Linked DNA regions of Homo sapiens. The protein of the gene in region 3 purifies or fractionates together with the protein of the main gene of each other region. This does not show direct contact. Each region holds a gene or a part of one and is shown on either strand. Other genes may lie near its edges.

Region 1 (3,652 bases), on a different chromosome or scaffold from region 3:
TAGGAAGAGTGTACACTTTGCTGAGGTTGACCGTACTTGTGGTTTTCATCAGGAAGTGAAAGTTTATGTGGCCTACATGTGTGAGCCCACTCTATACTAGGGATAGCAGGAGTGTGGTGCTCTAGGGGCAGAGGCCTGGGGTGTCACACAGACCTTGTTGGAATCCTAGCATTGCCATCTATTCACTGTTTGGCTTTTTCAAACTTCCTTTTAAAAAACGTGACAAAATGGTTATAATACTAAACTATTTGGGTTGTTGTAAATTTTAAGAACAACAGCAGTTACTACCATGTATTGAGCACTTAGGTTGTGTCAGGTACCCTGCCAAGAAAAGATCATAAGCAATGTCACTTCATTTCCATCATAATACATGAAGTAGTGCTATGGTTTGGATGTGGTTTGTTTCCACCAAAGCTCATGTGGAAGTCTAATTGCCACTGCATCTTGGGAGGTGGGGCCCAGTAGGAAGTGTTTGGGTCATGGGGGCGGGTTCCTCATGAATAGATCAATGCTGTCTCCCAGGATCGAGTTCTCAATCTCAAGGGAATGGATTAGTCGCCATGAGAGTGGGTTGTTATAAAGTGAGGCTCTTCCTGCTCTTTGGTCCCTCTTTACCTGCACCTGCCTCTCCTTCCACTTCTCTGCCATGTTATGATGCAGCACAAAAGCCCTCACCAGCAACTGATGCCAGTGCCTAGCGCTTGGACTTATCAGTCATCAGAATTGTGAGCCAAATAAACCTGTTTTCTTTATAAATTACCTAGTCTCAGTATTCTGTTATAGCAACACAAAATGGACTAAATCAATTAGTGATTGTTATTTCCACATGAAGACGAGGAAACTGAGGTGGTATATCACCCCTGGCCACACAGCTAGTGAGTGTCTGGCCTCAGGCTTCTATTCCAGGTCTGCCAACCCCAGATTCTGTGAGAGATAATGCAAAATCAGAGTCACTCCTAGTGCAGTCAGTGCTTAACAAGTGTTCATTCTCTTTCCTCCCAGATGCATCTTGTAGCTTTGATAGATCTCTGATTTCTTAATAAATTTTTATATGTAACATTCTATACAGCAGGTGGTCTGTCATACTGCCCTCATGTGGCTCATTTGGGTAATAGTGGGTTTTTTTTTTAAAGTTTAATGCAAAATATGTGTTATTTAAAATGTGTCTCTAAAGTCACCTAAATCTGTGGATACTTTGGGAGTTTGTATGATTCTATAACCCCAGTATGTAAGAAATGGCACTTTTTCTTTTCTACTGCCCACTTTAATGTCTTAACTCTGAGCCCTCATTTGGCTGGGAAGATACTTAACTTCAGTTACTCTAGTAGCTTCTACCCTGTCTTTGCCAAGATCTCCCATTCCTTCTGTTGTCTTGGAAGAGAAACCTTCTCTTCCCTGGTATTGTGCATAATGAAACTTTATTTCACCATCCTGTCAAGAGGGGAAAAATTTTTTTCACAATTATATTTTTCCATCTAATGTTCTGTTTACAGAGACATTTATCAACCACTGGAGAAATACTCAGCTTTCACACTTAAGAAAGAGATATTATTGCCAGAGTGTAGAGTGTTAATTCATTTTCCAGTTTAAATTGTAGAATTTTTTTTCCAAGAGGAAAAGAAAAAGGTCAGTTTTTGTCTCCACCTATAAGGAGCATTAAGTCACTAAGTGAAATTCCCTTAGTTTTCTCTTCATGCATGGAGAGGGTCCCAGCTTCCATGGACTCATTCTCCCATGCTATACAAAGTTACACAGGTGTATTTAAAGTTTAGTGGATTGTTTAGCTTAGGGATCTCCAAAGCGCATATCATCGAGGGACTGCCTTGTTTTCCAGTGGCTCTCTCCATGGAGGATTTAAAGGTAGATATGTATCACACTGGGCCTTACTTATGTCTGAATAATGAAAGGCTATGTCAATGGGAAAAGGGAATTTAGGGTGGGAAAAGGCAAGGAATTTTCTTTTTTTTTATTATTTAAGCACCATTTAGTAACAATGTACATACAGTCTCTGTTCTTAAATGTATTTAAGAGTTAACATCATCCTCATGCCAAGACCTTACTGTGTTTCAGATAACGGAGGGCAGACTTTGGCAGGGGGTAATAACTGGCCCCTTCGAGGAAGAAAATGGAGCCTGTGGGAAGGAGGCGTCCGAGGGGTGGGCTTTGTGGCAAGCCCCTTGCTGAAGCAGAAGGGCGTGAAGAACCGGGAGCTCATCCACATCTCTGACTGGCTGCCAACACTCGTGAAGCTGGCCAGGGGACACACCAATGGCACAAAGCCTCTGGATGGCTTCGACGTGTGGAAAACCATCAGGTACCTACACCCTGCCCTTTTTCCTCCCAGGACAGAAACTCCAAGAGCAGCCTGACTCCATTGAGCAAGAATGATAGCTTTTGTGTTAAAATGATAGTTCAGCTTACAAATACATGATTTTTAAGAAAAATAAGTGCCTTTAGAGACATTGTAAGTATATATATTTTTAAATTATAAATTTGAGATTGTGGGCCTGTGTTTTACGTGAAGAACAAGATTGTCCTCAGCCCATCGCCCTCCATGGAAGGTCTTTGAAGCTGCGACGTTTTGCTTAGAAGTAGGCTAGGGTATTGTTAGCTTCCTGCAGGGGGTCAGGGAACTAGTCCTGTTGTCTGCTGGAAGAATGGAGGACAAAACAGCAGGGAAAAAGCTGGAATAGGAACTAGGGATATGTTTATTTCCATTTATTAGCAAGTATCTAACAAGCACCTACTATGTGCCATACCTTCTTCTAGATGCTGAGAAATTAGGAATGAACAAGTCAGTCAAGATCCTGCCTCTCAGGAAGCTGTATTCTAGTTGGGGGAGAAAGATGTTGGACAAATGAACACACAGATGAGCAAGATGACTGCCAGTTGTGATAAGTGCCAGGAAGGCAAAAAAGTATGTTGTGATAGATAGAGCTGGCTGATGTGAAGAAGATACATCAGGGAACAGGACCCAGACTCAGATTTGGAAATCGTGATGGTCTTTTTCCTGTTTAACCCCCACAGTGTAGAGCAATAGCCCCCAAGGTTGGGAGGCACATGCCTTAGAGGTTGCAAGATGTTCCCTTGGAGTACAGGAAGAAAATTTCAATCTTGTATTTGTATTAATATCTAATTTCATCTCATCCTTTTTAAAGTATATGTTTTTTAAGACACATAATATATTAGTAGACTTGTACATAAATCTAATTTATAAATAAATATGCATATATTGGAGGTATTATTTTTACGGGTGGAATGACCTAGTGCAATGGTTTTCAACCTCTGTTTGGTGTTACAGCTCTGTTTGGGGTTAGCAGCTGATTGACTGTCCCTTAGTGGCCAGGGGGAGAGGACTTCCTCAGGCCATCTCTTCATCCCACTCCAGGTATCCCAGCTCAAGAATAGCAGGTTTCAGGTCTCTAGTTATAGGAAATACACAATGGAGTATTTAGGAGCAAAAAGCCATGATATATTTAACATACCCTCAAATGGTTCAGAAAAAAATTGTGTGTGTGTGTGTGTGTGTATGTATGTACATGTGCACAGAGAGAATTCAAATGGACTGCAAAATTAAATAAAAGAATATAGGTAAGGTGCATAAGTATTCTTTTGTTATGTCTTATTTTTGCAACTTTTTGTAAATTTGAAA
Region 2 (3,652 bases), on a different chromosome or scaffold from region 3:
GGCCCATCTCTACTAAAAATACAAAAAAATTAGCCGGGTGTGGTGGTGTGTGCCTGTAATCCCAGCTACTCGGGAGGCTGAGGCAGGAGAATCGCGTGAACCCAGCAGGCGGAGGTTACGGTGAGCCAAGATCGTGCCACTGCACTCCAGCCTGAGCAACAGTGTGAGACTCCATCTCAAAAAAAATAAAATAACTGAACACCTGCTTACTTTGCATGGCACAAGGCTGAGTTCTGGGACTACAGTAATGAACATGACAGATGGTCTTCAAGAATTTTATACAGAAGGTCATGCTATGTAAAGTGTTTAGCACAGTGACTGGCACATAAGCACTCTATAAACACTTTAATACTCACTGATAAAACCACAAAATGTAGTGTTTAATTATATGCTGATTTAGGTTGCTTCCTATGAAACAAACGTTGGTTCATCTAACTCATGCCTTCCTAACAAGCCTTCTTAGAAGCCAGAGGCTCGGCTTCAGAGTCAAACGGAATAGCTTATTAGATGTAAGAACACAGGATTTGGAACCAAATGGTCCTGGCTTCAAAACCCTACTCTGCCACTTTTTAGCTTTGTGACTATGGCAGAGATGGGCAGCTGTCCCCCAAAATCTGTTCTCTCCTTTCCCTACAGTCATAGAATCCCAAGTTTTTCTCAGGACACATGGACCCTCAGGATAAGCATATTTTCCAGCCTTCTTTGCAGCTAAATATGGTCACATGACTAGGTTCTAGCCAATGAGAATGTTAGTGGAAGTGATGTATATAACTTCCAGGAAGTATCCTTACATTAAGAGGTCCTACCCTTCACTAGCCTTTTCTTCCTTCCTGATGGCTGCGGCTAGAAGAGTCATCTTGGACCATGAAGTCATCTTGGGAATAGAGAGCATGCACATGGAGCAAGACAGCAGGAGCTTGGAGCCCTAACACTGTCAGCAATCTATCTTAGGCAAGTGACTCTTTTTTTTTTTTTGAGACAGAGTTTTGCTCATTGCCCAGGCTGGAGTGCAACGGCGCGATCTCGGCTCACTGCAACCTCTGCCTCCTGGGTTCAAGCGATTCTCCTGCCTCAGCCTCCCGAGTAGCTGGGATTACAGGAATGTGCCACCATGCTCGGCTAATTTTTGTATTTTTAGTACAGACGGTGTTTCACCATGTTGGCCAGGCTGGTCTCAAACTCCTGACCTCAAGTGATCCACCCGCCTCAGCCTCCCAAAGTGCTGCGGTTACAAGCATGAGCCACCATGCCCAGCTTAGGCAAGTTACTTAACCTCCCTAAGCTTCAATCTCCCCATCTATAAAAATGTGATAATGCAAGGTATCTATCTTACAGGGTTGTTTTGAAGACTGATTGATATAGTTGGGTCACAGTAAGGGCTAGAGTTAGGAGAGCTGGTATTACTGCCATTATGGAAGTACCAGCAGTCTTGCTGCCATGAAAACCGTAGAAGATGGCAACATCTTAACACAGCCCTGGGTACCTGGAGGTAGCTCAATGATTCTCACAGCTGAAAGGCATCCTAGTAGGCCAAGTCCTCCTGACAAGAATTTCCTTCTCCTGCACCCTTGTCAAATGGTCCCCAGGAAAGGGAAGTGCACTACCTCTGGGACAACTATTAGGACAGTGGTGTTTGTTCATCCATAAATCACAATCCTCATCCCCTTCTTTCAGAACCCTTCTCCTGATTGCTCCAAACCATCTCACTTTTCTCTGCCTCCTCTTTCTCCTCTGCCTTTGATCACTCCAGCCCTGCCTCTGAGGTCACACCCATAGTACTTCAAAGTTTCTTTCAATCCCTTTCAGAAGCCTTTTCTAACTAACTGGGAAGTAAGAGATGGCTTCCTCAGCCTTACCGTATTCAAAGAAGAGACTTCCCAAACTCTACAAATGAACTTCTCTCCCTCTGGAGCAGAACACAAATGATCATTTGCCATCTACAGGTTCTCAGATGTCCCAATCTCCTACATTTTTCATTGCTAACACTTTTAAAGCTATTTAATCTTGTTTGCAACATCAGCACTGGTCTGGGAGGTATATAACTCTTCCTGGCTACACAAAATCAAAATGTGCTGTATGTGTCTAAAGCTTATATTCATCTTTCCTGAGAATTTCCTTCCTGTTCTTACAGACACAAATCCTATGCTCTCTTTCCCACATTGCTGTCATCTTCCCATGTCACTGTCACTCATGCAGGCTGCTCCCAGACAGAGGCACTTTTCCAGTCACCCTTCCCTTCCTACCACTGTACCAGCCTCTATTCTCTCTCTAATCTTCTGCCCCTCTGGCCACATCTATCCTCAAATAGAGACTTTACTACCCTCATGGTTCAACCAGAGCCAGGCTTAAATGGCTTTGTAATTGGAACCAAGGGTTGTGGTGGCAGAGCCATGCACTGCCACCACAACCCTTATTGGGTGAGGCACCTAGGGTTAGGACAGAAGGAAACAACACACAGAGGTCAAGGGGGTAGGTACAAAGACAAAGGGTAGGACAAAGACATAAGCAGGAATCAGTATCCCAACAGACAGAAAAGAGGAATCTGATTCCAATCCCAGACACTGGCAAAGGACAGGTGCAGAAAAGCACAGGTCTGTCATGTTGAGGGAGATGAAAGCGTCTCCGAGATTTACCCTGTATACCCCTCACATACTGTCCAGGGTTTTCTAACTAAAATTGCCATTTCTAGAGGCTGGTACCTGCATCGGTCTCACTTTCAGAGCACTTAGCCTTATCCAACTTTTTTAAACAAAATTTTATTCCAGGCATGTGACCTATATGGGCTTAAAACCTTGGGATTCTTCGCTGTTTTAAATTCATACTACACATTAATTCACATTATGCAGCAAGAATGCTGACACATGAACCAGACCACATCAGAAGACAAGCAGGAAATAAGACCCCAACATGGGTTTTGCTCCCTCCCCAAACGCCTTCTACCTCTCCCAGATTAGTAAAGTAGTAGCCAGGCCTCCTTCCTGCCATACTGAGAGCCATCAGGTGAAGAGAAAGATGAGGTTCCACCAGTGGGGCTCCAAATCAGGCAGAGATCCACATGCATGCCTACAGTTCCAAACCTTCCCACTTCAGCCTGCATCTGGATGTCTGCCACTGTGCCCCTTTAAAGCCACCTTGATGCTCATTTTCCTCCATGGCACCTGTTTACACATGAAGATGAGGGTGGAGGGAAAATGACAGCACCTGCCAGGTGCCAGGGCCCGAGCTCCACTCCACAGAGTGGCCCAGAGAGCGAACAGCAGGGGGACCAGCATGCAGCCTTACATTACTTGAGCAGCCAGAAGAAACAAAAGGCACAAATGTCACATTGCCTTGTTTTCCCATTGATGGTTACTTCTCCTGCCCTGGGCCCCACCCTGCCACTCAGCCCTCTTTCCCGCCTTAGCCACACACCCCACCCCACATCCAAACCTCCCCAAGGGCTTTCCTTGTTTGTGTCCTGTTGAATCCACATGAATCACTAATTGCTGATTTAAACCCAGACACTAAGCGAATGACACATACAGTACAACAAATACAGATCCAATATGAAGAGACTGGCAAATGAAGGGCTCCCTGCCTTCTTGACTCTGCCTGAGCATACAGGTGACATGGAGACACTGCCTGTATCCCAGCCCACAGCTGAACAGAAGAC
Region 3 (3,752 bases):
TGATTCTGAAATTGCCTGCAGTGAGAAATACTGAGTCTATTTCCATGACACCCAAGCTGATTCTAACACTTTCCATCTTAATGAGTATCCTCAGTTGAGTTACCAGGCACTATATAACATCCTTTCAATTAGAAAAAGAGAAAAAAAGATTAAGCAAAGTAAGAACACACCATTAAGGATGAAAGTAAACAGCTAAACATTAAAGAATTAAAGAGGAAGCAGAGCAGTCTGACAGTCAAATTACAATACAGTATTGCCGCGAACCACAATCGAGTGTAGGGAAGAGTGGATATTAGAACAGCTAAGCCAAGCAATGCTGATAATATTTTAAAAATTGTTTTGAATTTTTTTTTTTTTTGCTGTTAACCTCTGTGCTGGTTTTACTCTTGAACAGGGCTAACATGTAAACATCTACAAATTCTTGTTTTTTATTTAAACGTATGCTTTTACAAATGCAAGGAACCCTTCACTGAAATAAAAAACAAACAAAAACAGAACAACAACAAACGCATCTACTTTGGACCCAGAGAAGAAGGTAAAGGCATATGTCTGATGTCATCACCACTATTTCAAGAAAAATCCACATGAACAGGGGACATAAAAGTAGTGAAAATGAGCAAGCAGTTAGGGAACTTTACATTCCAAACTCCCAAAGAGCAGGAGGAGAGACTGGAAATTTCACCCCACATTCTCTCCCCTCACTTATCACAAAAAATCACATTGTATTAGTTCAGTACCTTATGAATCAGAGACTGAATTACATTTGGCAAGAACCCTCTCTAGAGTGAAATGGACCAGAATGGAAAAACCTACACAAATAAGATAACCCACCTCCGGTCCAAGACTTGAAAATAACTAAATAGAATTACAACTGCGAAGCTATTCTTTGGAATGATGCTTTGACCAAAATAGTTCGACACACCTGCTACCAAAAAAAAAAAAAAAAAATCCCTGTTAAGAGAGACTCCTGCAACGCACAGGAGTGAAACTAATAAAATGTTCTTGGTTTCCTTTGGGCGTCAAGAAGCTGCCAGTAATAGACTTGAAGTTGTGATGCTCTTTGCAGCAAACCTCAGGAGACCAGGTGAAAAATTAGAGCACTATTGTAAGAGTAATGTCCCTGGAATAAACAATCTGCCACATCCATAGTCTTCGTCAGAAACCTGCTTATGTTCTCCTAGAAAAGTCTAACCATTCTAATAACCTCAAAGTATTTTATCTCCTAGCAGGAGGACAAAACTATGTTGTCAACTCAAAAATGTTCCTGTCATCACTGCCCTACCACTCTCTGAAGAGCCTGTAAAATATGGTTTGCAGAACTGGGTACCCTGAGACTCAGAAGGGAAAGAAGCAATGAGGTCATGCAGTCTACTCCGTCTGCCAGCTCAGGATTCCTCCTGCTGAGAATGTTCCTGCCCAAGTTGTAAACCCCACAAGATATAGGGTCATCCCAGACCCACACGGGCAGGTGCAGAAAACACAGCTGCCCACAGCAGACTCAACATAACTCACACGTGTGTGCTCATCTTTATCCACAAAGATGGAAGAGTTTGCTATGTGGGCAGGTCACCCCCGGCCCTTCTGATCCTGAGTGAGTGCCCCTGGCACACTGAGGATTCATCCTGCCCAAATTTGTCAGTCATCCTCCACAGATTCCCTGCACGCTGCTGCAGTTTACCATCGTGAACACATTTCCCCGGCTGCTGCTTCAAGGACAAAGACAGAGCACTTATATTCGTATCACAGCAGAAGAGCTCACGTTTATGGAAAAAAGATAAAAAGACAAACACTCCAGGCAAATGACCCCTGGCATTTTTGAAGCTGGATCATCCCAGACAAGATCCATGAAAACAGAGGAAATGCAGAAGGAAGGTCACTAAGCTTAGCTGGGAAGAGGGGGAACGAACGGTTCAGTTCACTGCAGCAACAGAGCAGCTCATTCAACGTAAGCACTTACCATAAAAATAGAAAGAGTCAACAGAAGGAGAAGGGATCCTTCCTCAGTGCCTTGGTGTCTTCGGCAGAAAGAAATCCACTGTGAACCTCCAGGCTCCAGTCGGGAGGAGGCCAGCAAAGTGATGACAGGCAATAAAACCACCACACACAAGTCCTTTTCAGCCTCCCCTCGGGCCGTATGCAGTTGTTTGTGCTGTAAAAACCCTGAGAAGTCTGGAACAGGACTCTCCGGAGAGCGAGCCGGAGTGAAAGCAGCCTGGTGGATTTCACCACCGTCTCAGAGCATCACGCCCAGGACTGGTCCTCCCCCTCCCCAGGTGCAGGGGAGGCATGGTCGGGGGAGGGTGGGCACTAGGCTGGGCTAGGAAAGGCGAGAAGAGGGATGAAAAGGAGTCTCTTTAGAGTGGAAGGAACTGCCGGAGAGAACATCAGTATTCCATATCAGTTATTGCCAGCGACCAATCAGCCCAGCCAGGGGGCCGTGTCAGTGTGACAAGAGAGCAGCAGATGACAGCCAGTTCTGAGAGCGGCAGGACAACCCCCTGCCTGGAAAAGAAATTTGGGAGGATTGGCAACTTATCCTCTCCACTGCTGCTGTTAATGTTTGCTTGTATTTAACAAAGATCTAAAGCCCCATAGTTACACTAGCCATGCAGGAAGTTTTTGAGGCATCCCACAGCATCTCTGCAAGAAGCCAGACTTGAAGTCCCCTAAATGATGTCTGATGGCATGTCACAGTCCAGACAGCCCTACTGATGTGCCTTCAAGGGGTCATCATGAGTACAGTAATGGCGCTTTGGACCTAAGCTTCTTTATGCCCAAAGTGCAGGATAAGATGACCAGTGACCCGGCTTTCTATTTCAGAAGTGAAAAATTTAAGACAGAGAAGGGTCAAAGGTCTCTCCAGGAATTTGACTGTCAATCTTCATTAGTTTTCTTGTATAATATAGGTATAGAAATATTGTTAGAGGTGAGCTTCTGAAGATAGTTAACATGTCCCTTTTAGAGCTCTTAAATCACCTATAAGACAAAATATGTGTTTGGGATAAACAATAATAACAATTCATAAACACACTGAAAATTGAGAAATTCTGACTTACACTAACAGAAGGAGCAAAGGAGCAAATCTCTTGGTGATAAATGAAGGATGCGTGGAGGACTCTAAACTTTTCCTACTTCCCTTTTCCCCTATTCTAATATTGAACTTATAAACTTTGTCCATATATATTAATTAATTTGTATTTGGTTGTGATGATTACATTATATAGGGATGTAGTTTCTGAAGTTAAATGCCAGTTTAATTGGACTCCACAGTAAAACTTCAGAACTTTTTGTAAGATGGGGAGATTGTCTTGGGCCACCTTTTTATCACTGCAGAAAAGATAACTCCCTTTAGTCAGTCAAGAGTTAACAGGAATATACAAATGCCCTCGGGTTTTGTTTTCTGTTTTTTTTTTCCAGGTGACTTACATGATGTAGAGTTTTTAATTTTAGTTGTCTGTTTTTACCTAGAAGTTGGAATACCATTTGCACATTTTGCTGTGATCTCTACCCGTAGGCAAGCTGACTTTGGGGAGCCTGAATACCACAGCTTAAAAGGAAGGGCTGAGCTCCAAGGAAGCAGATAACTCAGCACCAAAATGAGTCACAGCAGAAGGCCATAAAAAATGTTCCACATCAAAGATGAACATAATAAAGTGAAATTTTTTAAACGAAGAAGAAAGGATAGTTTGCCAGGGAAGTCCTTGTAAATTATATAAGGAAAACCTGGGAGACTTTGATTCTCAAATGCTGTT

What was found.
Region 1: the proteins of ANO4 (region 3) and ARSB fractionate together in Homo sapiens (co-fractionation; one large-scale study listed by BioGRID). This does not show direct contact.
Region 2: the proteins of ANO4 (region 3) and IGSF3 fractionate together in Homo sapiens (co-fractionation; one large-scale study listed by BioGRID). This does not show direct contact.

What each region holds. Positions count from the first base shown.
Region 1 is NC_000005.10:78,884,246-78,887,897, reverse strand, and holds part of ARSB (arylsulfatase B isoform 1 precursor), read left to right. Parts: intron 1-2,070; coding exon 2,071-2,314; intron 2,315-2,769; coding exon of another isoform or gene 2,770-2,776; exon of another isoform or gene 2,777-3,599; intron 3,600-3,652. UniProt on the Homo sapiens protein: Removes sulfate groups from chondroitin-4-sulfate (C4S) and regulates its degradation. Involved in the regulation of cell adhesion, cell migration and invasion in colonic epithelium.
Region 2 is NC_000001.11:116,661,115-116,664,766, forward strand, and holds part of IGSF3 (immunoglobulin superfamily member 3 isoform 2 precursor), read right to left. Parts: intron 1-3,652.
Region 3 is NC_000012.12:100,793,233-100,796,984, reverse strand, and holds the start of ANO4 (anoctamin-4), read right to left. Parts: upstream 2,210-3,752; 5' UTR 1,958-2,209; intron 1-1,957. UniProt on the Homo sapiens protein: Has calcium-dependent phospholipid scramblase activity; scrambles phosphatidylserine, phosphatidylcholine and galactosylceramide. Does not exhibit calcium-activated chloride channel (CaCC) activity.